Linked DNA regions of Homo sapiens. The protein of the gene in region 1 interacts with the protein of each later gene in a biochemical or structural test. Each region holds a gene or a part of one and is shown in the gene's direction. Other genes may lie near its edges.

Region 1 (7,756 bases):
ATGTGTGTCCTCTGCCCACAGGGGGTGCTGCAGAATGTGAGGTTTGTCTTTGGAACCACACCAGAAGACATCCTCAGGAACAAAGGCTGCTCCAGCTGTGAGTACCCCTCTATTTTTAGGGCACATAGGGAATCAGGGGGAATTCCACCAAAAACAAACTGAGGAATTTAGCAATAGTGGTTATACATAAATTACCCCCAGTGAGATCATCAAGAGGCATACAGAAGTGACTCCAAGGGGTATTATACACACACACGTATACACACGTGCGCATACACGCAACCCCTCTACCTGCATCCTTCACACCAAATGAAACGTCTTCTACCACTAAGAACTCAAGAGGCTGGTTGGTAAGAGTATCTATTTGAAGTTTTCATTTTGTTTCTTGCCAGCTACCAGTGTCCTCCTCACCCTTGACAACAACGTGGTGAATGGTTCCAGCCCTGCCATCCGCACTAACTACATTGGCCACAAGACAAAGGACTTGCAAGCCATCTGCGGCATCTCCTGTGATGAGCTGTCCAGCATGGTCCTGGAACTCAGGGGCCTGCGCACCATTGTGACCACGCTGCAGGACAGCATCCGCAAAGTGGTCAGTGGCCTCTGCACCCAGCCCGTTAGCATGAACCCTGGAAGGTTTATCGCAGATGGTCCCAAATGACTGAAAATGCGGGGGGACACTAATGATATTCTCTCCCATTTAGACTGAAGAGAACAAAGAGTTGGCCAATGAGCTGAGGCGGCCTCCCCTATGCTATCACAACGGAGTTCAGTACAGAAATAACGAGGAATGGACTGTTGATAGCTGCACTGAGTGTCACTGTCAGGTAAGGGACCTTCACCAGCCAGAATAAGAATCGACGGCTTTTGTTTGAACCTACATCTTTGGGGAAATACCCTAATCGCCACAGAGATTCTTTTTATGTTCCATGGCCTGATAACAAAGTGTTTTTTTTTTCTTTAAGATGCAATTATGGCATCTATAAGTTCTTCTTTAAACTCTCAGATGGTTTATCAAAGTATTAATTATACCCCAGGCTAAGTATCTAAGAGAATGAATCTACTAAGACATCTGAATAATTTACCTACCTTAGTTCAAAGACTAAGTGTTGAATGTCAGGTAAATAAAACCTGGTTGGAACATTCATTTTTTTTTCCCAACCCTGATTTATATTCAGCTTTGGCATAGGTTCTTTTAGTACAGTAGCAATTGTTTTTCAAATCACTTAGTCTGACACTGTTAGGATGTTACTGTCTGCTTTGCTCAGATGGCACTGCCAGGTGTGTGATTCACTCTAGCATCCCCGCATGCCAGTGGCCAGTGAGTTTGGAGGTTCACCTGGCTTATCTATTAATAGCAAAGTATTTGAATTTGCTTAAATACAAATCACAGATGACTGGCTGTGGGAACCAACTTCATTAAATTCCCTTTCTTTTCCAATATAAAGACAGATCACAGATCTATAGATGAGGAAAAAGTGCTTATAGATCTTCCTTCCTCCCCCCAAACACATAATATAAAAATGTAAAAGTCCTGGCTGAATTTTCTGAGTTTGATTTCAGACATAGATTTGACCCATGATGTTTGTTGGTTCCTCTGCTATAAATTCTTTGTACTGTAACTTCCACCCTTGACTAAGTAGCAATTAAAAAGAACTTTCCAAGGAATGGAGTGACACGTAAACTAGCACTAGAACTGTCTCTACGATAGTGGTGGCTGCAAATATGACAGAGACAGATCTATGAAAATCATTCCACTAGAGCATTGACAGCCCTGACCATGTTTTGGCTTGTAAAGGAAATGTTACAGGATGTAGACTTCTGTATGCAACATGCTCAGCAGCCTGTTCCCCTCTCACTCTCTTGCCCTGCAGAACTCAGTTACCATCTGCAAAAAGGTGTCCTGCCCCATCATGCCCTGCTCCAATGCCACAGTTCCTGATGGAGAATGCTGTCCTCGCTGTTGGCGTAAGTTTCTCAAATGGCATAGCTATTCTTCAGTGACTAGGTCAGTTCTACATACATCCTAGACAGCCGAGCACAACACTGGAACCCCACCCCCATCTCCATCATGCTTCCATTCAGTTTCTTGCTGCAGCAGCTGGTTAACTGACAGCTTATCTGCTGTACAGAGCCAAAACTCCATTATGAGTACATCGTAATTACCCATCTGGATTGCAGTAATGGCAGTGAAGATCTTGGTATAGCTCATTAATTCTGATTTTTTGCTTTGAGGAAAAGAGATGAAGACGTGGCAGCAACAGCTCTAAGTTGACTGCTTTTAGAATTTGACCTTAGTGGCACAGAGTTAAGAAAAATCTGCTCACCAGAGATATTGACAGGCTTACTGTGTAAGCATTGGCCTGATCGGGCCTGGAAGTTTTGCCCCTTTCATCTGTAGGGATAAGAGGGCCTAAGAGAATAGCAGCAATCTGAGCTCTAGAGCACCAAAAGAAATAAGGCACGATATCGTTCCATGGCACGTTATCCCTGGCTTTTGTTACCAGTAAAATGAATGACTTTGCTGAGACAATACTTAGTGTAGCAGGTACAAGTTATAAAAGTGATTCATTACAACTAAGATAAGGAAGAAAACAGGAAAACAGCACTTGCCCTTCACACACACAGAAACACACATGCACACACACACAAACACACCCTTGTCACAGCTCAGAATAACCAATTCCATCCAGGGATCATATTAGCGATATTGGCACTGTAATGGTCGTTTTTACATTTATTTTCTGTTCCGCATTCACTTAACATGTGCGTTAAAAGGAACAAAGCTAGCTGGAGGTAGCAAAGTTTTGAACTTGAATCAGGGATTGCTAAGAAAACTTACAACTAATGACCACAGAAAGTAAGTTCTTTGTCTTCTGTCTGATACAGCTAGATGTGATTGTAGCCGTGGTGCCTGGGCAGATGGTAAACAAACATGCTGTCCTCTTATGACAATATGTGCAGAGAAGGCCCCAAACGCTGGGGTGAGAGGAACAACAAACTGACTAACTCACGGCCGAGTTGGAGCCAGAACCAACAACAGCTCGGCTGCCTTCACACTCATCTGTCAAACACATGGTGTATGGCTCCCCTGACAGAAATGACTCCTATAAGCTTCCTCATACTCGCGCATTCTTGGAAGTCTGAGACTGGAAATGCCTACCCAGATATGTTAAGTCAGTAAAGGAAAACTCATTTGCAATGCTGAGAGGAGAAAGAAAATCAATGAATAGGAGAGCATACACTGTGGGAAGGCTCAGCTGTACTGAGCCAGGCAAAGCATCCGATTACCCCACTGCTGTACACATCATGACCTGGGATAAACCCCTGGGCCGTTGGCCTAAGAAATATGTTGCTTTTCATCCTGTATAACTGCAACTTTGTGCCGGCTCATATTATGTTCTAGAGAGCTCATGTACACCATGGTGACCATAGTTAATAATACTGGATTGTATGCTTAAAATTTGCTAAGAGAGTAGATCTTAAGTCATCACCAAAAAAAGTAACTGTAAGATGATGGAGATGTGTTAATTAGCTTGACGGTGGTAATCACAATATATGTGTATATCAAAACATCACATTATACACCTTAAATGTATATAATATTTGTCAATTATACCTCAGTAAAGCCAAAAAGAAATAAATATATTGCTTTTCACCCTCTGGCAAGTGGAGGGCCCTGAACAGAGCCCTCTAAAGAACAGCTTGTCCTAATCATCACGTACCTGATGAACCTCTGTTTCCCCTGCAGCCAGCGACTCTGCGGACGATGGCTGGTCTCCATGGTCCGAGTGGACCTCCTGTTCTACGAGCTGTGGCAATGGAATTCAGCAGCGCGGCCGCTCCTGCGATAGCCTCAACAACCGATGTGAGGGCTCCTCGGTCCAGACACGGACCTGCCACATTCAGGAGTGTGACAAGAGATGTAAGCATCTTAGCCTCTCAGGGACGTGGAGAACTGACCTGTCCTTGTTGTCGTCACCAAGGGCAGCTCCACAGCATGTATATTAAGAACACGGGTTCTAGGATCTCTGGATCCCAATCCCACTGCTTAGCTGTGCACCCTTGAACACAACTTACCCTCTCTGAGGCTCTTTCCTCATTTGCAACTTGGAGATAATAATAGTTCTTGATAAGTTTATCTTGAGCATTTTATTTAGATACTGCATGTAAAGCAGTTAGCACTGAGTTTTGGTTTATGGTAAGCACCCTGTAAATGTTAGGATATTAACAGCAACCCATAAAAACAGCGAACTTATCCGTTCTCTGGTAGAAAACATTCCATGTTGACATTTGGGCATGTGGCCAGGAGCCAATTTCTACCGTACACTGGGTTTAGTTGCCATTGACCATTTCCTGGAAATACTTCTGCGTGCTCCTGATGGGAGCCTCTATTTGGCTGTCTCTAAGCCAAAACCATTTGTGACCATCAACTCTGTACTTTAGTTAAACAGGATGGTGGCTGGAGCCACTGGTCCCCGTGGTCATCTTGTTCTGTGACATGTGGTGATGGTGTGATCACAAGGATCCGGCTCTGCAACTCTCCCAGCCCCCAGATGAACGGGAAACCCTGTGAAGGCGAAGCGCGGGAGACCAAAGCCTGCAAGAAAGACGCCTGCCCCAGTAAGTGTGAGGTCCGCTGCAAGGGTGAGCATGGGCAGCAGCTCTGCCCAGCTGGTTGCCTGGCATCTGCAGCCTGCAGTTCAGTGGGTCATAGAGCAGGAAGGTTACCTACTAGAGAAACAAACAGAAGCAAAGTCCTGCAGGCTCAGCAACTTCTTTTAATGAAAAACAAACTCACCCTCTTCCCCAGCATTCTTTCCATGTGTCAGAGAAGCAGAGGTTTCTTGAACGGGCTTAGGAGAGTCTATGACAAGGGAGGGATTTGAAAGTTGATCTTAATTGTTGCCTGTGGTTCATCTTCTTACAGTCAATGGAGGCTGGGGTCCTTGGTCACCATGGGACATCTGTTCTGTCACCTGTGGAGGAGGGGTACAGAAACGTAGTCGTCTCTGCAACAACCCCACACCCCAGTTTGGAGGCAAGGACTGCGTTGGTGATGTAACAGAAAACCAGATCTGCAACAAGCAGGACTGTCCAATTGGTGAGCCACGCAGCCCAGGATGAAACGACCCAGGAGCTTTGCTCTTTTACTGAATGCTGCAGTCAGCATTCGAGGAGATTCCAGCTTGGTTAGTCCTGAGCGATTTGATTGCTCTAAGATGCAGGTGGACAACATAATCCCAACAAGTTATCGGTTCCCTATACCCTATAATATCTTACACTGTGTTAAGTGCCCAGCATGGCAGTATGGCAGCTTAGACCAACCATTTACTGTGACTGTCTCTCTCTCCTTGTCTCAGATGGATGCCTGTCCAATCCCTGCTTTGCCGGCGTGAAGTGTACTAGCTACCCTGATGGCAGCTGGAAATGTGGTGCTTGTCCCCCTGGTTACAGTGGAAATGGCATCCAGTGCACAGATGTTGATGAGGTGAGGAACTGATGGGGCTCCGAGTTTCTGGATCTAGGAAAGCAGCTAACCTGTGCAGTCGCTTCCTTATGGCAGTGACTTCTAAACATGATGCACGCTCTTATTTCCTCCATAGTGCAAAGAAGTGCCTGATGCCTGCTTCAACCACAATGGAGAGCACCGGTGTGAGAACACGGACCCCGGCTACAACTGCCTGCCCTGCCCCCCACGCTTCACCGGCTCACAGCCCTTCGGCCAGGGTGTCGAACATGCCACGGCCAACAAACAGGTACAGTCAACTAGACGAGTAAACCAGAGGACAGGAGAGCTGTCCTTGACCAAAATAACTGGGAGCGGGAGGAATGTAATTTCATACCCTTCACCAAAAAAAAAAGGGCGAGGAGATGAATGTACGGTCTAGTTTTAGAAACGTGATTAGAAAATCCATGGTAAATCCTGCAGGGGAAAAACAGTCTTCCATATTTAAAAATGCTGCTCTGGAATAAGTTGTGAGCAGATGGACTTGTAAACGCCTAGGTGCTGAGCAAATTCAAGAAAAATAAACATAAAGCAAAGTTTGCTTATAGCCTCAGGGAGAATGGGGAGGGACAGAGGTAACCCACACTCTTCCAAATGGAGCCTCTGTCTACTCAGAGATGACAGGGATCTGGATTCTTGTTTCCATGATATCTGAGGATTCTCAAAAGCTCTGTGTAACAGCAGCATGGTGTACCCTCAGGTGTGCAAGCCCCGTAACCCCTGCACGGATGGGACCCACGACTGCAACAAGAACGCCAAGTGCAACTACCTGGGCCACTATAGCGACCCCATGTACCGCTGCGAGTGCAAGCCTGGCTACGCTGGCAATGGCATCATCTGCGGGGAGGACACAGACCTGGATGGCTGGCCCAATGAGAACCTGGTGTGCGTGGCCAATGCGACTTACCACTGCAAAAAGGTAGAGCCAGGTCCTTTGTGTGCCTCCAGAAAGAGGGCCCATCACCTTATCAAAACACAGGCTAAGGAATTTTAAATACTTAAAGTTTGGACATGAAACTGAAAGATTAAATCTCCCAAAGGGAGAGGGGCACTAATTCCTATTAAAATTAAATCACTTGGTGCCAAAAACATGAACAGGGCTAGCTCTTTTTGGGCAACTGTGTTCCATAGTCAACTCTTCTGTCCAAAAAAAAGTTCAGTACTCTATCCAAATACCAGCAAAGCATGACTTGTGTTCACAACATCTATAAAGCCTAGAGCATTTACACAAATTCTGTATGTATATCCCCCAAGAAAAGTTTTATTTTCTTGTCTTCCCATAAAAAAAATATGCTGTTACTGAGCCAAATTCTGTTCTTTTTCTATTTGGAATTCCAGGTACACTCCCTCGTGCATGAGCTCAGCATGAGGAAGGCAACTGAAGCAGTGATATATATCTTCTCTTTCCTAGGATAATTGCCCCAACCTTCCCAACTCAGGGCAGGAAGACTATGACAAGGATGGAATTGGTGATGCCTGTGATGATGACGATGACAATGATAAAATTCCAGATGACAGGGTAAAAACAGTTTTCTATCCCTTTTTCATCTTTTCAGTTCAGCAACAGCCTGAAACACTTTGGGATTCAAGGAAATTACATGGCTATAGCAAAAAATATACCAAATCAATACACAGGATAATTAGAAATTATTCATTGTGTTCCAGTAGTTTAAGGATGTAGATGTTGCCAAGAGAATTTTTAAATGAGGGTTTTGTTTTTCATCAGAACTGTTTTTCTCTGTACTTGAGAAATTATAATGCATAAACAAATGCCACTTTGTTCCCTAGATTCATTTCAAATGTCACATCGAAATTACAGTAAAATTGACTTTGGGCACACTATGAACTGAGATGATGGGATTATATTCTACATCTCACTAACTTCTAACCCACAGGGATCCATTTTTTTAACTATGTCCTTTTAACTTTTGTAGTGATCGTTTTACACTGAGTGATCAATTAGCCTATCCACTAGGTAGAAAGTATTGCTGATTTTCACAGTTTTAGACATATTATGCACATGGTTTGAGGCTTGAGCTGTTTTCAAGGACAACATTGTTAAGTGCTCCATTTCTTCTCTTTGCAGGACAACTGTCCATTCCATTACAACCCAGCTCAGTATGACTATGACAGAGATGATGTGGGAGACCGCTGTGACAACTGTCCCTACAACCACAACCCAGATCAGGCAGACACAGACAACAATGGGGAAGGAGACGCCTGTGCTGCAGACATTGATGGAGACGG
Region 2 (7,756 bases), on another chromosome or scaffold:
GCGCCCCGTGGCTGCTCTCCGCAGCCCACCCCGCCCGGGCCCCCGACTCGCTCACTCACCCCACGCATGCACACTCCTGGCCGGAGGCGATGCTGCGCTCCGGCGGGCGGGCGCGCAGAGCGACGGGCACGCACTACCGCGGCCAGGTCGCGCGCCCGCCTCTGCCACGCCCGTGCACACGCGGGACACACGCGCGCGCACCGCACACAAACGCACGCACGGCCCCTGCACGCGCGGCCTGAGCACACGTGCGCGCACACCCACGCACGTACACAGGCACGCACGGGCCCCCGTGCACCCAGCGCCTGGTGCTCGCCCCCGCGCAACAGGTGGGCCCTCCGTGGGCCCTGGCACCTCACCACCTCTGTAGCGGCCCCATTTCCTTCCTGGCGTCCTGTGAGGGAGGGAGAACCTCCCATCAGCACCACAGCACCTACTTTTTTTTTTGCCTCGTCAGCCCGACGCCCCTCAAACCTTACCCATCTGTGACTCCTTTTTTTCAACCACCTCCGCGTGGTGGAAAATGGTGGTGATGTGACTCTGAGGGGCACTGAGCTGTCCAGAGCGATTCCCCCTTCACATAAGCCTTCATTTGAACCTGCAAGACTGGAGGGACCTGGCGTGTGCAACCGCGGAGGGGGCTCCCACCCCTGGCTGTTGCATTCTCTTGGCTGATCCCAGCGTGCCCCGGGGAGGCCGCTGACAGCTGGATGTTTCCCCAGCCTCCCCTTACCATTTCCAGCTTCGTCCAGCACCTCCTCCTTCTTTCCCACAGCTCCACGGGCTCGTGTATCTGGGGTGGAGGCTGTGGCACAGAAACTGCCTTTCTCCTCACTTTAGTCACAGCATTCTTGAACACATGGCCACAGGCGCGATGTATGTGGCACTTTGCAGTTTATGAAGCACTTTGCTGCTAAGCCTGAGTGAGCCTCAGGCTGGCCCTGGGGGAGGGGACCTGCATGGGGATGGAACCACGCAGGGGTCAGTCCAGGAAGGAGCTGTAATGGCCAGTGCTGGGAGAGTCAGGGCAGGCCTGCTGGTGGAGGTGGCCTTGGAGCTGTCCACGTCCTGGTCGTGCTCGGACTAATCTTTCAGCAGACGGCAGGCAGCCGTGAGGCAGGGCTGGGTGGAGGGCCTGCCGAGGCCTCTGAGGTGCCATCTCCACCAGCTGAGCTGGCTTCCAGGAGGGCGAGTCCCACTGTCACGTGACGCGTCTGGCCTCAGCACACTTCTTCCGGGAAAGAGTGAAGGGCCCCACTGCCCTTTGCCATCCAGCTTCCTCTGGCTTTGCTAATGGCCCTAGGGGGCAGGAGACCAACTGCTGGAATCCCAGAGCCCTGGAGGTGTGCAAGGGCAGGTCAAACAGAATTTGGAGGATCTGGTGCAAGAGCCAGGAAGAGAGAGAGAGAGAGAGTGTGTGTGTGTGTGTGTGTGCGCATCTGAGAGAGAGAGAGAGAGAGACTGACTGAGCAGGAATGGTGAGATGTTTATCATGGGCCTCGTAAGTACCTCTCCACGTCTTGTCTTCCCCTCCCCACATTGAGGAGCCTCTTCTGTGACAACTCTTCCTATGTTCTGGTTTATTTCATTGTTTATTACCTGCTTTCTCTACTGGAGTGTCAACCCCATTAGAGAGCTTTCCTCCTGGTCCCCACTTTTAGAACAGTGCCCAGAGCCCTGTGGACAATCAGTAACTATTAGTGCAAAGAACAGTTAGTGCTGGGTTGGTGGGGAGGGCAGGACCTGGCCCCCTGTTGCTCCATGGCCCCACTGAGTCCTCGCTTTGCTCTGCTCCGAGGGCAGCCCCCCTTTTCAGCCCTCTGGTAGGCATCAGTCTTTCAAAGCCCCCCATCTTGAGAGAGAAGCATGTCTGTCTCTCCTCTGTCTTGGGACTTGGGCTACCAGGATTAGACAGGACAGAGGAGAAGAAACAGAAAGAAAATCAGACTGCAAAGGTTCTGTGTATCTTTAGCTGGGGCTAAGTTTCTGCCACCTAAAAAAAAAAAGAGAGAGAGAAGATTGGATTAGTGCAGAGTTCCCAAAGAATGGCAGAATCCCCTGGCCCCGTCCCCTGGCTGGGATGGGGATGGGCAGTGATTGCCGTGGTTGCCAGTATTATAAATGGCTGGACTGGTTCCTCTCTTCCTGCTTTAATTTTCCTCTGCTCCTGCAAGAGGTGGGGAGGCCAGGGTTCTGGGCCCACGTGAAGGAGCAGAGGCTGAGCGGGAGGGTCCCAAGAGCAATAAAGAAGGGGAATGCTAGGTGGGAAACACTGGTTCTAATGGCTTCTGTGGTTTGCCCCGAGAGGGCTTCTTCAAAGGGGTTGGTTGGCTTTGGCATTCGATCTAAATAAGGCCTGCGACTCTCAGGCAGGCAGGCTCTGGGAGGCCTCATCAGCTTCTTCCTCTGCCAGCCACAGACAACGCCCCTGGTTGCTTGGGCCTGTGTGTCCCTTGGTGGGAATGGCAGGCGGGCCGGGGAGTGTGTATCTGTGTGTGTGTGCTGGGCCCAGGAGGAGGGTGGGGTTCAAGCCCCTTTGATCTGCCAGCCTGGTTGGGAGCAGATCACTCACCTGGCCTCACGCTCGCTCGTGCCCTTCCTACCTGCTGCAGCTGGCGCTGGGGGCGGGGTCGGAGGAGGCTGTTTACCTTGGCTCCCACGGCTGGCTTTGCCCCAGCTGCCTCCTCGCCACGCCCTCACTCTGCCAGAAACCCCGGGCCTGAGATCTTGGGACAGCTTCTTCAGGGTGCCAGGCCTCCTTTCCCATCTCTGAAGTGAGCTGTCCACCTGGAGGCCTGCGGAACCTGTGCCCAGGAAAACCAGGCTCCGGGCGGCTCACCTTCCCATACCAAGAAGAGCCTGTGACTCCCAACAGGTGCTCATGCTCGTCATCCCCAGAGCATTGCATCCTGGAGCTGAGCACGTGCTGAGTGTCCCCCCACCCTCACCCACCCCCAGCCCCGGAAGGGCCTTGTAAGCCCACACGGCCCAGGCTCTGCCAGTGTGGAGGTAGGGTACCATTTCCTGTGGCCCAGCACAAGGGATAATGCAAAGTCACGCACTCTTTCATGGGCAGGCAGCTCTCCACCCACTCCTTGTCATCCTCAAAAATGTCCTGTGCTGCTGGCCCTGAGCACGTGTGCCACTCGCTGCTGCCCACAAAGGAGCCATCCGGAAAGAATTAATGATGATGACAGTGACAACTCATTAAGCTCCCATTATCTGCTGGCAGCTCTGCTCTGTGCAATTATGCCTCCCAGTAACCCCGGGCGAGGTATTATTAGCCCCATTTAAAAGATGCAGAAGCCGAGGTTTTAGATTGTGACAAGATTCCAAGAATCCAGGTTGCCCTGGCATCTGGAGCCCTTGCTCTTTCCTCCGCTACAGGGTTTCTCAGCCTCTGCACTCCTGATGTTTGGGAAGGCCGTCCTGTGCCCTGAAGGGTGGTGAGCGGCATCCCCGGCCTCCCCCAACTTAAGATGCAGTGCACACCCCAAGTTGTGGCCACCAGCGATGCCTTCATACATTGCCACTGTCCCCTGGGGGCCCACTGGGCCCTGGTTGAGAGCCTCTGACGTGGGACATGCTGCAGAGTAAAGAGCCAACACGAACCTTGTGTGATGCTGAGGGCCAGTGGCCTTAGAACACAGGAGAGGGAGGCTGAGACGCCCCATGGTGGGCTGGAACAGGTGGGCAGTCTGGAGCCTGGGAACGACCCAGCTCTGCCACTTGCTAATTGTCTGGACCTGTTGCTGCTTGTTTAATTTTTTCTAAGCTTCAGTGTTCTCATCTGGAGGATGGGGATACAAATACTGCCAGCCTCTTAGGATTGGTAGTTTATACGGTGTTTTTCTCAGCGTGTGGCTTGTAGCTGGCATTCATAGATGTTAGTTGTGGTATTATTACCAAATCCGGGGGCTTATGGGTAGTTCTGGGCATCTAGTGGCCACATTACCAAAAGCATCTTCAGGGACGGTCTCCCTGCTCAGATTAAAAGGGACTCTAGTTGCTCATTTGCCTAGGGTTGGGGAAGAATATCCCAGGTGGCCCTCCTGGTGGAGGAGGCAGAAGAATCATACTGGACAGAACCTGGAAAATGGTAGACTCCTTCATGCATTTGACCAGTATTTACCGAGGACCTACTATGTGCCTCTCTCTCCTCCTCAGACCCTATCCTGGGCTCTTTCACACTCAGCCTTGGAGGGGCATCTCCTATGTGTCGTGGGCCTGGATCTGGGGTGTCCACTCGGCCTGTTCAGGGGTCTGCCTCCTCTGCCGTGGCTGGCAGCTGCAGCCGGCTCTCCAGTGGGCAGGGAGATCTTGGCACAAGCACTAAATGCCATTTGCTACTAGGCCTTTGGGCCCCTCCCCTGGGGGGTTAATTGAATCTTTACTCCACAAACGCTTCTTGTTCTCCTTCTGCCAGTGATCCAGGGAGGCCTGGCTAGGCACCCGGCTTTGGCGTTTTCTCTGCCCCTTCTAACGCCTCCTGGCAGAATTAGAATTGAATCGAATGTTCTTCAAGCCCCTCGATTCACAGATGAGAGCCAGGACCATAGGGGCAGTGACCAGCCGAGGTCACACGGCAGTTGGTCCAAAGGCGTGGGATTCAGCTCTCTGGCCTGCCAGTTCTGGGTTTGACAGAACTCTCAGGGGAAGCGGCTTTCGCTGGTGTTCACTGGAGACCAAGCCCTCTGTTCTGTGGGTTGGGTACTTTGTCAACATTTGGAGAGCACCGGAGGCGTGGTCTCTCTTCTGAGGTGGAAAGAATGAACTTGCTTGAGGGCGGGAGGAGGCAGAGCCCGGAGGAGATGGGGCCGAAAGTGAGGGGCAGCGGGGCCCATACCCTCCTCTGTCTTGCACGTGCAGCCCCTGGCTGCCCGGATATTGAAGGAAAGACCCTAGTTCTCAGCCAAGCCCTGCCACCTTTTTTTCCTCAAGTTGCCCAGCAGCCCTTAGACATTGGGCGGAGTTGTAAGCTCCATGTTCAAACAAAGACATGGAGACTCAGGGGTTTCAGGGAATGATGTAGCTTTAAAAGTGGTCACCCCCACCCCCCGCCCTGAGTCTTCTGGCTCCTGGATCGATGTGGGTGGCCAGAGTTGGTCATGGATGAACCCCTGGAGGTGTTGCTAGACCTCATGATAAGCTGGAGGAAACAGAGCTTTCGGGGAGAGCCCCCTGAGGCTGGCCACAGGGCTGAGACGACCTCTTCTCCTCTCCCTCGCTCCCCCTCCGCCGTCAGGCAGCGAGAAAGCAGCATCCCTTTTGTGAAGGTAGCCTGCACCGACCCCCTCTGAGCCCCCCGACCTTCGGCTCCGGGAATGTGGAGCGAACCAAGAAGGGAAGTCCTCCCTTCTTAATCCAGGGAAACTGAGGCAGAAAATAGTTTAACCCAAGGTTCTATAGTAATGTGCCAAGCCTATTGATGCCCTCTCCAGGACTGTCTGTCCAGACCGTGCAGCCCGAGTGCCTGTGCCTGCACGTGTGTGTTTGCACACGTGGAAGTCCGGTTCCAGCCTTTGAACGTGCAGCGACATCTTAGGAATTTTCTTTGCTTCTCAGTGGCTGGTGGTCTGGATTGTGATTCTCAGTCTCCCATCTGCCCTCGCCTCTTTCTTGGGATCTCTGGCATCCGCCCCTTGGGTCTCCTGGGACTGTGGGGGACGTGGCTGTGACCTTCCTACGGGGCTGCTCTTGTGTCATTGTGGGACCTGCGGTTTCCCTGGAGGAAGCCCAGCTCCGAATGAGGCCTGTTGAAGTGTTATCAGGTTTCGAGTATGTTTGGCAACAGGCCAAAGGGGCTCTAAAAATAGGGTTTGGTTGGGCACAGGGCACGGGTAAGCTTTCAGGTTTCCCGGCCGTGTCCGAGGATTCCCTTTTCGCCTCTTTCGAGTGAGAGACTTCATAGATACCGCTAGGACCTGGGGCCTCCTGAGGCCATCGCACTCTGCACGCGTTTATTAAGCACCTCTTGTACCCAGGAGCCTGGGAGTACAGGCTCTGTCATCCCAAAGGCATGGGTTTGAATGCAGCTTTTGCCAATAATTGAGCCTCTCTTTGAACGTTTGTTTTCCCCTCTGTAAAATGGGGGTTAGATTGGCCATGGGAGATGCTGGCTGTCTTCAGCTGTCAGGTGTGTTGTGAGACTCAGGGAGAAATCAGATTTTGGTGCATTCCCAGAACATGTAGTTTGGTGGGGGAGACAGACATAGAGACAAGCAGGTCCAACTCAAAGCAAGCTGGGGTTCCTGTTGGGGGTTGAGGGTGCAGGGACTGAGCTGGGTCTCAGAGGCTTCGGCAGGTCCAGGCCCCGAGGCCTTTGTGCTCCTGATCATCAGGCCTGGATCCTGCCTGTCCGTCTCCCTGTGACCTTGGAGCTTTCCACAGGAGAAAGCGAGAAAGCGTGTGGTGGGGGAGACAGCCATGCTGGAAAGCCCCCACTCCCAGCTCACTCAGCCTTTTGGTGTCTGCCCGGCAGGGGGACCCCATTCCCGAGGAGCTTTATGAGATGCTGAGTGACCACTCGATCCGCTCCTTTGATGATCTCCAACGCCTGCTGCACGGAGACCCCGGAGGTAAATGGAATCCTCGCCCCGCGCTCCGGCCCTCCGAGGAGACTTTAAGAGATCTGGGAGGGGCAGGACAGGAGGCATCCCTCCTTCTTGACGTCTGGAGAACTAGAGGCCCATGGCAGCCCAGAGAGAGCGTGGCCACACCCATCCAGGGCAGGGCCGAGTCAGCAGGCGGGTTGGTACCTGGGACTTGGGGTGTGGCAGGAGAAGCACCCACGTGTGGCTCCGGCTTGGTGCCAAGGGTGGGGTGCCAGGAGGAGGGAGGGCGGGGAGAAGGTGCCCAGGGCATCTGCCGAGTATGTCTCCAGGTGTGGGCCCAGCCAGGGAGGGTGGCACTGGAGGAGTCATCTCCCCGCCCCTCTGGCTAGGGGCCCGGTCTGTGAGGTCCCCTGGGGACACCTGGCCTCGACCAGCAGGCAGCCCTGCCCGTGCCCCAGAGCTCACTCAGCGAATGGGCACGTGCTCGGTGGCACACACGTGGCGGGGCTGGCGGGCTGGATTGACAATGTATTTATAAACGCTGTCTTCAGAGCAAATTCCATTCTATTCTAACCTCTGGCCTGTTCCCTGGAGCCCTGGTCAGCAGCCCCCCTGCACCCCCAGGTCCCCTTCCCTCTGGGGTTCTGTCTCTTTGTCACTTTGTAATCCTTGCCCAGACGCTATCTACGGGGGAACAGCATTTCCTGCCTTTGTTTCCTCTCCCCGTTGGGCCCCTGGCTCCCTCTCAAAAGCATTCCCGGGCCCTTTCAATCCCGCCTGTGCTGGGGGGCGGTGAGGCAGGCAGGAGGGGGCCCCAGCTGGGCCCACCTATTGTTCGCCAGGGCCCCCACCCGATGTCTCCCACAACCCCCACCCTATGCCCGACTGGCCGCCCCTGGCCACACACAATGGGGCAACTTCCAAATTTAGCCTTTCTACCATTTCTTTCCAAGCCTTTACACCCCCACCCTCAGACGGCCCCTCCACACCCCTGGTGGGGGTCGGGATCTTGGAGATGAGGTTTCAATAGCAGGCCTGTTTCAAGGCAACCATGTGGCTATTTTTTCCTAATCAACTTAACCTTTCCACAAAGCGCATCTTTTCCCCATCTCCTCCCCACCAGGGACATTCCAGAGATGGCAGGGAGAAAGGAAAGGAGCCAGAGGGACAGATAGGCTCGTTGACGTAGGGGCTGTCAGGCT
Region 3 (7,756 bases), on another chromosome or scaffold:
AACCTGGAAGGGTGCTACTGGCATCTGGCAGGTAGAGGCCGGGGATGCTGCTGAACATCCTACAATACACATTATAATACCCTCAACAAAAACATTTTTGACCCCAAATGTCACTAGTACTCAGGTTGAGAACTCTGCTAACTTTATAACTAGCTAAGGACAAGACATTAAAAGGGAAATGTAGAATAACTCATCCAGACTTGTGGAGACTACCAATTTTTTTAAAATTTTTTATTTCTATAGGGTTTTAGGGACCAGGTGGTAGTTGGTTACATGAGTAAGTTCTTTAGTGGTGATTTGTGAAATTTTGTTGCACCCATCACCCAAGCAGTATACACTGAATCCAGTTTGTAGTCCTGTCCCTCCCCAACTTCCCACCCTTTCTTCCCAAGTCCCCAAAGAGACTACTCTTTTTTTAAAGGATACCTGTACCAGGCAATAGACTGACAAGAATACAAATCTAAAAATGACAAATTTCATCTATTTCTATGTAGCCCAACCTGGACATAAATTTAAGTACAGTATATTATTTTCTCACATATTGGATGTTTACTGATAGTTGACCAAACCATGAGGAGACCCCCCAAAACAAATAAAACTGACCAGAAAACATGGAGAAGAGTTAATAGTAGCCACAGTTTCCTACTACATTATGGCTCAGATTTCTAGACCTGTTTGAAAAGTTGAAAAATCTATGGTCTCATTCCTCAGACTGTTTTGTCCAACTGACCTGAACATCTGTCACTGGAATTTTTTTTCCTTTGGCATGACACTTTGTGCCTACATGTTTTCTAAACTGCAGGTAACTTTTGAAAGGCCAAGTTCAACCATTATCAGATTTTAACATTTAGTATGGATTAAATTGTGAGTGCAATTTCTTCCCCAAAAGCTGGCCAGAAGGACTGGAGTTTGGGGAGGGATGCTTTGAAGACTGTGATATAAATGATGGGGTCCTGGAGAGGTGCAGGGGAAGAGGAGGCAGAGTGGGAAGCTGTGAGGTAGGAAAGAGAGGAAAATTTTCTAAAAGAAGAGGTAGGAGAAGATGACACAACACAAATGTTTCCAATTTTTCAGTGTTGCTGAAGGTCAACTGTGCTTCACACCTGGGCATTCTCCTGAATTTGCACTCAAAAGGGCCCATTTTCTGGCGTTTTTCTCATAGTCCTGGAATAATCTTCATTTGACATGAGAGTCTTGATAAAAACAAGATGTTAAAAGTGGTTAGAGAGTTTCTCCTTCTCCAGCATGTGCGCTGCACTCCTGCCTTTCTTTTGGCATCCTTAACTTTTGGCAGGCCTCTTTCAATGCGGTGGGAATGGATAATATTAAGTATGTACTCTAAAGTAGCAAGCTGTGTAAAAACATTCAGAAGAGAGAACACTTTATCCCAAGCAGCACGTACAACATGTGGTAGAGTATAGTAAGTGAAATGTATGCTGCTTATGTACACTTAGTATTCAATTTATTCCAGGTGCTCTTATTTACAAAAAAAAAAAAAAAAAAAAAAAATGAGAGTAGTTAGAAGTACTGTATCTACCCTTGGGCTTCTCCCAGGAGGTGACTGCCTGTGTGCCACACTTCTTTGCTTGCAGGCTCCAGAGGACGCTGAGACTTGGAAAGGCAGACCTGCCCACCCCAGTGTGGAGCAGGGGTGGCTTGTAGGTGGGCCTGACCCCTGGGCTCTTTGCTACTGCATGTGTTCCATGCAACCCCAAGCATAAAAACATGGACTTGTGAAATCAAAGGGAGGCTTCAGACCTTCTGGTTTACCCATCTCTTTTTACAGAAGAGGATACTGAAGCTCAGAAAAGTCACCAATTACTCAAGTTCACTTGTGGGTTTCCTCTTTTTTTATCCTGAATGAGCTTCTTACCACCTGGTCCCTTGCCTTCTCTTCCTGCCATCCCTCAGCCTCAGTGCGCTCTTCATTCCACCATAGAGTGTGCCCTGCTGGACCCCACTTTGGTTAGGCTTCCTCCATTTCAGGGTAGTGAGCTGCTAGCCCCTTTGAAGAGTTCTTACTAGTTTACGGGTGCCTCAGGTTGATTTCCTGGGGTTTTGGATAAAGCCACCTTTCCATCTCTTCACTACTGCCTTTGGGGTAAATAGAACCATTGATTTAATAATACACGTACTAGATTCTCTCCCCCCACCTCTCTTTGGTAATATCTGGCAAGTGGATAGCAATAATTTTACTTAATGAACGTGATATTTACTGTAATAAATATTGGGTGCAGTAAACAAATGAAGTCAGAATCTAATAGCTCATTTAATCTTGGAAATCATGTAATCAGTACAGCAATGAAAGGACAATTCATGAGTCATAGATATTACCACACCTTAGGAGCCTTTTAAGATGAGTTTGATGCCAAGTGACTTCAGCCTAGAAAAGGCAATATCCCCTCATGACATGCCCTGAGGGGTTTCATTTGTTTATAAAATGACCGTTATGTAATTAGACTTTGACAATGGTGTAACAATTGGGTTTTAAGTATTCTCATTTTGATTTATGATGCCATTTTATGTGGAAGGACATAATTTTAAAGTTTAATTAGAAAATAAAATGTTACAGATGTAATGAACAAAACAAGAACGGTTCTTTAAATATCATAAGCATAAAATTGACTTTCTTCATCTATACACTGATTCTGAGAACTCATCATCAGTGATGTTGAAAAGACAATTTAAGGTCTCACATTATTGGAACTACTATTTTAAAACCACGAGATGCCTGTACAAGCTGGTAATTACACATGTGCTGTAGTCTTTGCTTGTTTTTCCAATTCTAGTGTTTGTTGATTTTCCAGATACCCTACTTGGGCCCCTATGTCCCGTAGCACACGTCTGTAAGAAGGCTGGCATGGGATAAAAGTCTATGACCATGAAACGGAGCAAGGCAAATCTGTATCTTTGGGGCACATATCTTTTTCTTTTTTTCTTTTTGAGACACAGTCTTACCCTGTCACCTAGGCTGGAGTGCAGTGGCACAATCTCAGCTCACTACAACCTCTCCTTCCTGGGTTCAAGCAATTCTTCTGCTTCAGCTGTGATTACAAGCACCTGCCACCGCACCCAGCTAATTTTTGCATTTTTAGTAGAGACGGGATTTCACCATGAATTTTCCTGGCTGGTCTCGAACTCCAGACCTCAGGTTATCTGTCCACCTCAGCCTCCCAAAGTGCTGTGATTACAGGCGTGAGCCACCGTGCCCAGCCTGGGGCACAAATCTTAACCTCATCAGGATATTCTGTCCAAACAAATGTATTTTGTTCTGTTTTATTTTTGAGTTTGTCCTTTTCTGTGCTCTGAAATTAGGATCTGGTCTAGTACTTAATTTGTATATTGTCAGTGCTCAATAAATAGTTAATGCTTGATTGTTTGCATAATAATTTGGAATAATGATTATCAGTGTAGAGTTTTAGCTGGATCATTAGAAAATGCACTTATGGCACTGTGATTTTAAGTGTTTCCTTGTTGTATCCACTGTTCAGTTAGCTCCTGCTTTCTCTTTTCTCCCTTTAATAATGACCGCCAACAAGGCCTTTTAAGCTAGGTTATGTATAGCCACAGGAATTTAGGAGAGGAGGAAAAGAAAAGTGGCAACTTCCAGGGGAACTCACCCTTTGAGCCATAGACTGTGGTTCTTAGAAGCCAGACCAGTCTCATTCTAAACACCTTCAGAATATTTTTAGTTTGAAGAAATTGGAAGGGCCTGGAGGCAACAGACAGCCAATATTCAGTGTTTATGTCTCATCCAGCTGTCTTCTGTCACTCTTCCTGCACAAGGTGACTTTTGACTTGACCGGTGTATCTTTGATACTTACTCATTTACAGAAATGTATAATGGATGTGTGTGTGTGTGTGTGTGTGTATGTGTGTATTTGTATTTTTATAGAGCTATTGACTTCTGCAATTTAACCTCTAAGATGAATTATCCAATAGAATTCTGAAATGAAAAGTTCACAGATTTTCAAGGTATTTTGGAGATTTAAAAATTGAAGAGAAGCTATGTGAATATTAAGTGTATGTTCCAGATATAATTGAACAATTGAAAGGAATGATCCTGGTTTAATTTATAATTAAGCTATACATTAATTTATAATGAAAACTTGTAATTAAATGATAACTCAAATTAGCCAAGAAAAAAGTATTTTTTAAAAGAAATTTGTACAGAGTAGTAATGATCTGGCTGCATTCTGTGAACAGATTATTCTCTGTTCATAATTTAGGCACCTTAAGATGCTGGCACCTTAAGGTAGGAACCATGACTTCTTTATATAAATAAACATCATAAAAAGCTCAGTACTTTTTACTCAGAGAGTGCTCACTAAATGTCAGCTGATGAGGAAAACATTCTCTGTGGAACTTGCTGTGAAATAACTACTCATGAGGCATATGCTGTATAAAGCTTGGTCAAAGTTTACAGTTTTCTTGGTGTCTTGACATCTGTGTTTAGATACTTGGTCAATCTTTAAATGAAGATAATTATATATAGCAAAGTTATATTTGGGAAACATTTCGGAATTTTGGAGACTGGCTATTAGTTTTTCTTAGAATAATCTAGAGAAAGATGAATCATTTTTCAGGAAAAATTGTTTAGAACTTTTATTGGGAATTCTGATTTCCTTAAAAGTATTTAAGATTTTTATCATGTACTATTGTTGTAGGAAAATCCTGGTTCTTGTCACACGCCCAGGAAAGATTAGGCTCACAGACACTTTGGAGGGTGAGGGGTTATGGAATTTATTGGTCAGAAAGAAAAAAGGAAAAACAACACAGCAAAGCAATAGGGGTTCATATTAACAGGCCCCCATCTCACAGATTGATTCCCAAGTTACCACCCCGAACAGGAGAGACCAGTCTCCTCCCTGCAAAGGGCGTGAACTTCTGTGGCTCCACCCCATTCTCCCAGTGTGCAGGCCATTTGGAGGTTCTCCAGGGACCCCTTTATACTTGGCTGTCCTGTCTCACTATGCAATATAAAACTTTCTCAGGTATGCTGTGCATTGTTTTTCATTCTTATTTTCTTTTGTGAATAATATCCTGGAATCAGTACGTTCTTCTACATCATCTCCTTTTCTTTTTTTGAACTCTTTTAAATTCTAGATTCTGCCCTCAGTATTCCACTTAAATCATTCTTATGAGAGCACCAGTAGTCTTCTAATTTAATCATGTGGCCTTTTCCAATTTTTCATGCTACTCTGACATGTGGCAGTATTGTCTGCCTCTGACTTCTTGATAATTCCTTGGCTTCTATTACATCACATCAACCTGGTTCTCCTTTTGAAACTGCCTTTGCAAAAGTTATATCTGAGAAAATTATGACACTGCCAGAGATATGACCTAGCCCACTCCCCTCCTCTTGCCTTTAGCTTTCAAGCTGCCTTAATCATTTCTGGGCTTAGGCCCAGATAACTTTGGGAGATAGTTTAAAGGATAATAAGCCTTCCCCAAAACTCAACTGCCTTTATAAAGCTAATGAAAGGCCCTCAGGCTTCAGGGGAGGACAGGAATCTGAGTTGTGCTAAGGTGTAGACGTATTAATAGATTGCCACTAGTGCACCAATAGTGGTGCAGATAACACCACTATTGTAGATTGGCCTTTTGAGATATCTTTTCAGGTTTTTTGCATGTCTGACACCCATGGCTCCAGCTGGACCTGCTAAACCACTCCTGTGGCCCCACCCAGGAATGGTTCCACTCAAGAGGACAACTTTGACCCCCTATTATTTCATCTTCAGCCCAATGAATTATCAGTAAGCACCCATTGCATAGCAATCCTCACCCTTTCCCCCAAACTGCTGTTGAAAAACTCCTATCCCATGAGCTGTGGATGAGATTGGTTTGAGTACTAACTCTATCTCCCATGTGGCTTTGCCGGCCTTGTGTTTATTAAACTCTTTCTTTACTGCAATGCTGTGGTCTTTCCTTGTGCAGCAGGCTGGAAGAACTCCTCAGGCGGTTATACTTTTGCCCATCCAACTGTCTTTTTTTCCACTTTCTTCTGTTTTTTTTTTGCATTTGTATTCCCCCAAGGTTCTGTTTTTAGCCTTCTACTCTTCTTTCTGTGTACTTGTATTCCTTCAGAAGATCATGTATTGTCTCTGTCTCTGTCTTGATTCCCCATCTCAATTTCCCACTGCTTGGAGGGCAGACACACTGCCATAGCTTCAACTTAACATACATAAAACAGAACTTAACACCATTTTCTCAAACTAGCACCCTTTCCTCCTGAATTTCTGCTTGTAGTGAATTATTATTCTTGTCTCCAAAGCTAGACACCATGGAATTGTCTTTGATGCCTTTCTCTACTTCTTTCGTATATATCTCTCTAAAATGTTTCCCAGCCATAGTGATTTCCTTGCCCTGCCTCTTGATTTAATGACCTCTACTCTCCTGCAATTTTAAGCACTAACCAGACCTACCTGGCTTTCCTTCTTAAACATGACCTACCTTATTTCTTACTGTTTACCATCCATACCTTCCTGAAGCTGTAGCACTCTGTGCTTTAATTATAGTCTCTTTAATGTGTCATAACGATTACTGTCACAATGATTGGCCTTTCTTCATGTGACTCTTGTTTTTGAAAAATCCTTCTTTTTCTTATCAATTTCTCTCTCACAACTCCTCCCATCCTCACCTTTCTCTGGAAAAATCCTTTAAGATCCAGCCCAACAGACTTCTTTGTGAAACTTTCCTCTACCTTCCCAGGGAGAATTAATGGTTTTTACTGTTTTCCCATATACTTGGTACATAGTCTGAACACAGAACTTCATGCTTTCTGTAATAGTTAGTGGTTTATGTGTCTGGCTTCTGCACTGGGACTGTGAACTCTTTGTAGGCAAGCACTGGATCCCATTTGCTGCATCTATCCTCACACACAGTGGCCACTCAAAGAATGTTTGTTAAATTGAAGATGTACTCAATAAATTAGCCAAGTCTCTTAACTTCCTTTCTGACCTTCCCTTCACGTCTCCTGTCTTCCTTGTCATCTTAGCCTTTAACCAGGCAGTTTTCCTTAAGCTGAAATGTCCTGTCTGTCCTCGTACCTTATCCCATTTCCAGTCATGCTTTGGGCCTTATTTCTTTCACATCATCCTGTATCCATCTTTCCTTTTCTGTGTGCTATCTAAAAATTCTCTCTAATAGCTTGTTGTATTTTAATTTTATGTCCCCCAGTTTTACTGGAAATTCCTAGCTGGCAAGAAATTTTTATTTTTAAAAAATCCAGACCACATTACCCAGTAGTTCTTTACTCTTTCCTATTCTGAGGGTCTGAGGCTGAATTTACTCATCCCAGGGTCCTTTTGGCTTCATTGCTGAATGAGTGACCAGTCTGAGTCCCATGAAAAGGTTCACTCTATATTTGTTGAATGGGCAACAACTTCAAATAAGTATAAATACTATAGTATGAGGCATATAAAATGGTAAATTGAATGCAACAGCACTGTAGTTCTTTTCTGCAAACACCTTTAACATTATTCAAGGGAAGCAATAAAGGCAAAGCGTAGTCATTTGTTGGATCACTTTTTATTTTGGAAACTTTTCAGCTGTTAAGTAACATATTAATATTTCTAGCCAACATTAATGCTCAGTTCTAGAACTGGTTATAGTACTCTAATTAAGGAACGCAGACCTGGGAATTCATACCTGATTCAGACACTTCAATCCTTACGTCAGTGTGTCTCTCTCTTACTCAGGTCTAAAACCAGTGAATCATTGTAAAAGTTAGTATTGGGGACTGTCTGGTACCATT
Region 4 (7,756 bases), on another chromosome or scaffold:
CTTTGGCAACCAGCCCCATCCTGAGACTATCCAAGAACCCACCAAGAGTTGCTTCATTCAAACAAAAGATGCTCCCTTCACTCAGGAACCCCCAAGGGATTTAGGAGCTCCGTGTCAGGAACTGGGGGGCAGAGACCAAATATACGTTTCTTATTCTACCACAGTGTCATATGAAGGGGAGGACAACACTGCCTTTCTGTGTCTTGCCCCATAGAGGGCGCACAATGCATGGAAATAAATGTTTCTGAATCAACAGCAAACAGGCTTCATCGGGTAGGAGAGCGCTGAGCCCTCCAGGGACAATGCACATCAATGATGTCCCACTGTCCTTTGGTGCTGGGGCTCTAAGGCCTCCACTGGGTCAGGCTCCTGAAGGGAGACCCATTCTCCAAAGACCCCCGAGGGTCACCACTCCCTGTCCAGGGGTGTGGCCTCATAGCTCCTTTTGAACAGGGGCACAGGAAGGACGGCTTTAGAGCATTCAAAAAATAACTTTGCCAAAATAATAATAATAATAATAGAAAGGAAGAAGAGGCTGAGCATGGTGGCTCACACCTGTAATCCCTACACTTTGGGAGGCTGAGACAAGCAGATCACCTGAGGTCAGGAGTTCGAGACTAGCCTGGCCAAAATGGTGAAACCTCATCTCTACTGAAAATAGAAAAAAAAATTAGCCAGGTGTGGTGGCGTGCACCTGCAGTTGCAGCTACTCAGGAGGCTGAAGCAGGAGAATCGCTTGAACCCAGGAGATGGAGGTTGCAGTGAGCTGAGATCATGCCACTGCACTCCAGCCTGGGCGACAAGAGCAAAACTCCACCTCAGAAAAAAAAAAAAAAAAAAAAAAGAAGGAAGGAAAAAGAAACACTCCTTTATGTCTTCTAAGGATAGACATGAAATGCGTGAGCCTTGGAACACCTTCTCCCTCTCCTGCCCCACGTGAGCTGGAGCTTACATGCCTTCTTGTTTTCAGTACTGCCGTAACCCTGATGGTGATGTAGGTGGTCCCTGGTGCTACACGACAAATCCAAGAAAACTTTACGACTACTGTGATGTCCCTCAGTGTGGTAGGTTGCCTTCTTTTTGGTAAGGAAACTGCTTACTTAATATGGATTTGCAACAAAAAAGGAAAAGGGCTTCTGAGCAGACTGCTTCTGGGGAGGAGATAGCTGCCCTCTCCATCAGACCCCACTCTTCATCATGGGCATCTTGAATCTGCCCTACTATTGGCCACATTTGTTAGAGGAACACCTGCCCATCGCCCCAGGCACACATAAATAAAATAAATGTAAAATTCCCAAAGAGCAAGCTTAGAGGTAATCTAGTCAGCCCCAGGATGGTCCCACTGAATGCTGCCATGTCTAGCGTGGGATGCATGAAAAATTTAGAGTCATTCGGATGAAAAACTTTCCCTTTCCACAGCTGAGAAGTAAGAAAGAAAATACAAACAGCAGGAAACAGGTAAGCATGTAACGCACATTGTAAACCTCAGATGGCCATCCTAGGAATTCAATGAAAGGTAGTGCAGCTCTTTAGCCCCAGATGGCCTTTCTTATAAGTTTACTACTCACAAGTCACATTAGTGACATAGCTTAGAGACTGCTTGTTGGGTTCCATCCTCATTGCTCTGAGACTCTTGTTGGGAGTATGAGGCTTGGATCAGGGGAAGGGGAGTTGACATTAGTTCTTAAAGAATTGGAATAACAAATCCATGGGTATTTCTGAAAAAAAAAAAAAAAAAAAGAAAGGAAGCTACTTGGAATTGTCCCATATTTAACATTCTGCTGACCAATCAATTTGTCCTAGTTACAGAAAACCACCCTGGACTTCTCCTATGCATAATTTGGTTGCTTGTGGTTGGGTCTGCCATGTGGAGGGACCTTGAGCTGGGGGAAGGAGCTTGGCCTCCAAGTCCACTGAAGACCAGCATCCTGAGATTGCCTGGGAAGGTGGTACAGGGCAGTGATGAAGATCATGGGAGCCACACTGCCCAGCTTCGCATTTGGGCTTCTCCTAGGGACACCAAGAGGGAGGAAGGAGGGGTTAGGATGGTATGAAAGATTCTACTTGGCCAATATTATTGTAATGCGGCATTGTGATCTCTGGATTTAGCATGAGTTGATAGCTGACTTTTTCTGCAGAAGCATCTTGGTGGCACCTCTAACTCAAAGTCCCTCGATGGAGTCAGTTCCAGTTCTCCACTTCTGGCCCCATCTGGTACACACCACTGCCTCTCACTGCCCGGGCTCTCTATCCTTGACAGGCTGCCTTGAAGTTGAGCCCAGACTGATTTTCTTGCCTCAGACCCCACTACCGTGCCTGGGACTCATGCACCTTTGACTCCCATGGAAGGGAAGTGCAGTAGTTTCCCAGGTGCAATTCTGGTGTCCTCACCCACATTGAGGATGTACAAGAATCAGGTTCTTAGAGATTGGAGAAAGAAGGAAGAATGGGAACAAGATTTTTCCCAAAGGACTGTGAGGTCCCCCACCTAACCTTGATGTGAGACAAGTGAGGTTAACCCCAAGCCTGGTGAGAAGCGTTCCCATCAGACACTTGGAAATCCTGAGGACTGTTTCATGCAGAAGGATATGGTTTATTCAGGTTTGACTCGTGCTTGAGAAAGCTAGAGCCTCTGGTGGTGAATGATTTTAATAACTATTTCCTTTCCACCAACATATACAGTACAAATAATAATAAGCAAAAATAAATAGAAACATTCAGTTTTGTTTTGAATAGTAGGAGCAGGGTACCATCATTTCTGTAGTTACTCTTTTAGTACAACGATGCATGTCTACTGTATGTAAGGCATACTAGCAGAAATTGAGCTCAGCACTAGAGAAGATGATTGCATTCTATGCCTTGCTTCTTTTTTTAAAAAAAGGCTTCCATAGATAGATTCTCAGAACAGCCCATGGCAAATGTAAAGTTATTTGGAAAACCCAGGTTCCAGATTCACTAGAGCATAGAATCTCTGGTTGGTTGGGAAGGAATTTCCTCTTACAGTTGTTACTAATAATTGTATGAACAATTATTTAAAATATTAACATTTACATTTGTGAAGACCTTGAAGGGCTGGAGACAACAGAGAAGCATTTTTGAATACCCTCTGCAGCCCCTGCACTGTTGTAGGCATTGGTGGATGGTACCAAAGATGGGACACTGTCCCTACCTCCAGAGACCCTGTGGGCTGGCTACAGAGAGAAGGCAGGGAGGAGGAAAAGAAGAATAAAGTCATATGTTTAAGTCACCCCCACGGCCGTTGGTTAGTCATGGGAGGCTCCCCAGAGGAGCTGTCCTGAAGCTGGCTGACAGAAGGCAACATTTCAACTTAGGACAGTAATCCTTGCTACATACAATCACATACACACACACACACACGTGCACACACAGAGACTCACATGGAAAAATAAACCTTTGTGCCTTTCAGCAGTGATGACAATTATGGTTTTCAGTAAACTTTACATGGTTTAGATGGTGATGGTGATGATGATGATTATGGGAAGGATGGCATCATGTTCTAAACATACTGCATGGAGTCAGAATAACAATGACAAATAACCATTTGTCCCAATCAAGGTTTTCTCAGAAAATATCTCATTCTGATGCTAAACTATACCAGTCTGTTTGATCACTTCTCCAACAAAATAATTACAAAGTGCTTATATTTTCTTGAAAAGAGAGGGTCCTGTGTTGTCTACTACCACTTTTGAAACTTAGAGAAAATGTTCCAAAAGATGATGATTTTACTATTTAGTTCGGCCTTTAAGATGTCAAAAACTCAGTGCTTGGAATTTGTCTCGAATTACACCACAAAATTGCTACCTTGTCTCAAATGGGATTTCTTTCCCACCTTGTGCCACAGCGGCCCCTTCATTTGATTGTGGGAAGCCTCAAGTGGAGCCGAAGAAATGTCCTGGAAGGGTTGTAGGGGGGTGTGTGGCCCACCCACATTCCTGGCCCTGGCAAGTCAGTCTTAGAACAAGGTAAGAACAGGCCCAGAAACGATTTATACTGTCCCTCCACGTAAGCCCTGCAAAACCCTTCTACATTTACATAAAATCCACACAGCTGAGGCATCAGCACCTGCCTCTAAGTTTTCTGAAGGAGGAAAAAAGCTACAAAAATTAATATATGTATATATACATATATATTTTTATAGGTTCTCTACTGTGAAAATGACAAAAATTGCTGTCTTTTTCTTGATCTGGGCAGCTCCATCAAAATCTGTAGGCACAGTGATTTGCACCAAGTTCCAATATTGCTGGAAAATACTGAAGATGCTCTGAGGATTTCTATGGATATCCATTGTCTCATTGTCAGATGAAAAGAGGGGGAAGTTTTTAGAAATGTGACACTTTCTGGGTTGGGAGAGCAAGGACAAAATTATCTCCAGTCTATCACAGGCACAGATTCTTTTTCTTTGGACACTTTCGTGAATCATTGAATTCAATGCAGAGGCTACTCATCCATTCGCAAACAAAAAAATTCTAGGTCATGATCCCCATAAATGAAGAGTGATCAGTCCAATCCCAGGGAACCTGGACATTTTGGGTATTGTTTCAGTGGAACATGCCTTTCATAAGTTCCATTTTCTTGGGTATCTCTTAGGAAGCAAGCATAGGAAACAGGCCCATCCGTCTGCCTGTTTTGCTTCCTCATCTCACTTCTACACGAGGGTGCCTGTGCTCAATTGCTGTTTTCCCCTAAAGAGACTCTTTTCCATAAGTTTGTGAAATGCCATCGACAAACCTGATCGCATTGCATTTCACTCTGCTGTTGAGTCGATTTTTCTTTATTTTATCATTTAGTAACTCCTTGCTCTACAGAGCTTTCACCTTCCACATATTTCAGATTCATTCTTTCCTAAACTATGTGGTGGTCTACGTCCTCACTGACTTATCAACATGCTACCATCATGCACTTCCTATCTCTATTCCTCTTCTTTAAATTTGGTTCCAAATGGCTCACACCATTATTCTGAGCTATTACCTGCCTACGCAGTCCTAGAAAGTAAGTGATTCAGGAAACATTCCCCAAAAGTAAAGTTTCTCAGGTAAGATCAGAAGACTCCCATGAGTCACTGCTGCTCAGGATCACATCTGGCTCCTTGAAGAGTGATTCATCAGACCTTACATAGATCTTGTCATAAAAATGAAAGAGGCCTCGGGGGAAGGTCTTGGGCTGGTGGCTTCTGTTGGAGTCCTGGGCTGTGGGGTGAAAGCCGTGGCTGTAGAGCTTCATGCGGAGTTACTTAGCTTTGCTCTCCTGTGGACAGGCCATGCCTGTGCCTCCCCCAAGCATCGGAAAAATTGGCATAGATGGGCCCTTCTCAAAAATCCCACTCCTGGAGCACTGGCCAAAATTACTACCATCCTGATGCTGGGCTTGCAGTCCTTTCCTTTGGGAATATGAACATGGTCAAAATTAAGTGAACGTGTCTTTCTGGCTTTCTGTACAATGGAGCAGAACAAAGTATCAATTTAACTAAAATTTGAACTAAATCCTCTTTCCAGGTTTGGAATGCACTTCTGTGGAGGCACCTTGATATCCCCAGAGTGGGTGTTGACTGCTGCCCACTGCTTGGAGAAGTATGTTTAGGGGACAATTGACATGAAGTCTTGTCTTAAATACTTTTTCTGTCCTTCTTTTCCTCCTTTCCTCCTTTCCTTTCTCACTCTTCCTCCCTTCCTTCTCTGGCTGTGACACTAGGGACCAGGCCAGGGCAATTGGATAAGAGAGAAGGGAAGGGTTTCTAGAAAGAAACTGCAGAGGAAAGACACAGTACAGATGATTTTGTGGGCCTGAATAAACTGCAGAACAGAGCTGTTCACTACCATAGGCTGTATCAGTCTCTGCCCAAACAGCCCAAGAACATTCCTTAACTGCCTGTTTCAAGCAAATCATGAATTTTGCTTCTTGCCACTCAGAAGTCACTAATTCTGAGTGGCCAAGGGTGTCAGGGAGACAGCACCAATTTCATGGCACAGAGGTTACCTGAAGGGGCTGGACCATATTTTCCTCTTGACGTCCTCATCTTTTCTAGGTCCCCAAGGCCTTCATCCTACAAGGTCATCCTGGGTGCACACCAAGAAGTGAATCTCGAACCGCATGTTCAGGAAATAGAAGTGTCTAGGCTGTTCTTGGAGCCCACACGAAAAGATATTGCCTTGCTAAAGCTAAGCAGGTACTCGTTCACCTGTGGTCTTCACCCCACGCTGGTGAAGATATTTGCTTTATGTCTGGGTTTTATGGGCCATGGCCACTGCATGGCAGTGGGGAGGAACTGTCTATCACATGAAAGGCTCAAGGGCTTTGGGGACAGCATCAATCTTCAACCCTAGCCCTGCCACATGCTAGCTGTGCTCTTGAGAAAGGCAGCAGGACTCCGTTTTCTCATGTGGAAAAAGAGTTGAAATGAGGTACTCTGTTACTCCTAGAACTCACTTAATGTTCACCAGTTCATACACATTCATGATCAGAGAACGATTCAGTTATTCCAGGCTGACAATTCCCCCTTCATCATAATATGTTTAAGAGAATCATATAAGACTATATTTGTTTCAAAGCACTTTAAAAACCACAAGATCGAGTTGGGTGTCTGGTGTGGGTGCCTGTAATCCCAGCTACTTGGGAGGCTGAGGCAGGAGGGTCACTTGAGTCCCGGAGTTTGAGGCTGCAGTGAGTTATGATCGTGTCACTGCATTCCAGCCTGGGCGACAGAGTAAGACACTGTACCAAAAAAAAAAACACCAAAAAAACAAAAAACAAACAAAAAAAAAACAACTTCACAATGTCAAAAAAATCACAAATACAGTTTATAAATGTAAATTATATTATTATTATTGTCTTCTTTGATTTGATTTTCTCTTTCCTGTTGAAATGTTGTTTCACTAAGCCTGACAAAGTGAAACATTTGCTTATGTCACTCATTTAGTGCTGTTTGGAGCCAGATACTAGTTGAGTCAGCTAAGAAACAGCTATTTGTAGGAGAAGCAGGTTTGGGACAGGTGACAAGGCACGCAGGGCGCTCGCTGTGCTGGTGGTTCTGGAAGACAGGGTGTCAGTGTGGACAGGGATGAGCATGGCCTGGATGAGAAGGCACGGGGCAGGAGCCTGAGCTGCTCTCCTGGGCCTGGCCACAAGCCCAGGGCAGCTTCTCTGGGTCTGTGAACTGAGGGGTGATGTCCTGGGATGCTCTGACACTCTAGAAGGAGAGAAGAGCCTTTCCAGCTCAGCCTTTATAAACAGTAGCTGATCTCCCTCCTGCTCCCCAGTGTCCTCCCCGCCATCCCAGCAAATGTGCAAATAGAAGGTCCCCGTTCCTCATGATCCTCAGAGAGCTGGGGTGTTCTGATGGCTTGAACAAGTAATTTGGAAATTTTGGGTTTTGGAGGAGTTCTCTGATAGGCTGATACATTTCGAGTTTAGAGTTCCCACCCCACATCCCCACACCCCGAGTCTAGGGCATTTAGTGCTCCACCAGGGAACCTGTAGAGTGAGGACGTCTGCATGACAGGCTGGGCCTTCTGATGATGCTCAGAAGCAGAAAGTGTGCCTGCTTCAAAGTTGGTGACGATGATGTTTCTTGATCAGAATAGGGCATTTCTTATTTCCAATCCTTTATCCTCTTGAACTTACTAAAGTAGAATCAGGTCTAAAAACCGGAGTTCTAATGTTTGAGAGTCCCTGGGACTCTAAAGTATATGAATGTTCTTTGAAAACAAATACCATTTTGTTCAAGCAAAAGGCTTATTTC

Evidence for each region.
Region 2: the proteins of THBS1 (region 1) and PDGFB form a complex in vitro, tested with the Homo sapiens proteins (one study listed by BioGRID).
Region 3: the proteins of THBS1 (region 1) and FGF2 form a complex in vitro, tested with the Homo sapiens proteins (one study listed by BioGRID).
Region 4: the proteins of THBS1 (region 1) and PLG form a complex in vitro, tested with the Homo sapiens proteins (2 studies listed by BioGRID).

The regions. Positions count from the first base shown.
Region 1 is NC_000015.10:39,583,596-39,591,351, forward strand, and holds part of THBS1 (thrombospondin-1 precursor), read left to right. Parts: intron 1-21; coding exon 22-97; intron 98-392; coding exon 393-592; intron 593-704; coding exon 705-827; intron 828-1,874; coding exon 1,875-1,968; intron 1,969-2,530; exon of another isoform or gene 2,531-3,658; intron 3,659-3,751; coding exon 3,752-3,925; intron 3,926-4,446; coding exon 4,447-4,623; intron 4,624-4,930; coding exon 4,931-5,104; intron 5,105-5,363; coding exon 5,364-5,491; intron 5,492-5,606; coding exon 5,607-5,759; intron 5,760-6,209; coding exon 6,210-6,428; intron 6,429-6,920; coding exon 6,921-7,028; intron 7,029-7,595; coding exon 7,596-7,755; intron 7,756-7,756. UniProt on the Homo sapiens protein: Adhesive glycoprotein that mediates cell-to-cell and cell-to-matrix interactions.
Region 2 is NC_000022.11:39,234,600-39,242,355, reverse strand, and holds part of PDGFB (platelet-derived growth factor subunit B isoform 1 preproprotein), read left to right. Parts: intron 1-1,228; exon of another isoform or gene 1,229-1,343; intron 1,344-1,446; exon of another isoform or gene 1,447-1,483; coding exon of another isoform or gene 1,484-1,501; intron 1,502-6,481; coding exon 6,482-6,578; intron 6,579-7,756. UniProt on the Homo sapiens protein: Growth factor that plays an essential role in the regulation of embryonic development, cell proliferation, cell migration, survival and chemotaxis. Potent mitogen for cells of mesenchymal origin.
Region 3 is NC_000004.12:122,829,332-122,837,087, forward strand, and holds part of FGF2 (fibroblast growth factor 2 isoform 18 kDa), read left to right. Parts: intron 1-7,756. UniProt on the Homo sapiens protein: Acts as a ligand for FGFR1, FGFR2, FGFR3 and FGFR4. Also acts as an integrin ligand which is required for FGF2 signaling. Binds to integrin ITGAV:ITGB3.
Region 4 is NC_000006.12:160,733,025-160,740,780, forward strand, and holds part of PLG (plasminogen isoform 1 precursor), read left to right. Parts: intron 1-970; coding exon 971-1,064; intron 1,065-3,862; coding exon 3,863-3,983; intron 3,984-5,513; coding exon 5,514-5,588; intron 5,589-6,043; coding exon 6,044-6,184; intron 6,185-7,756. UniProt on the Homo sapiens protein: Plasmin dissolves the fibrin of blood clots and acts as a proteolytic factor in a variety of other processes including embryonic development, tissue remodeling, tumor invasion, and inflammation. In ovulation, weakens the walls of the Graafian follicle.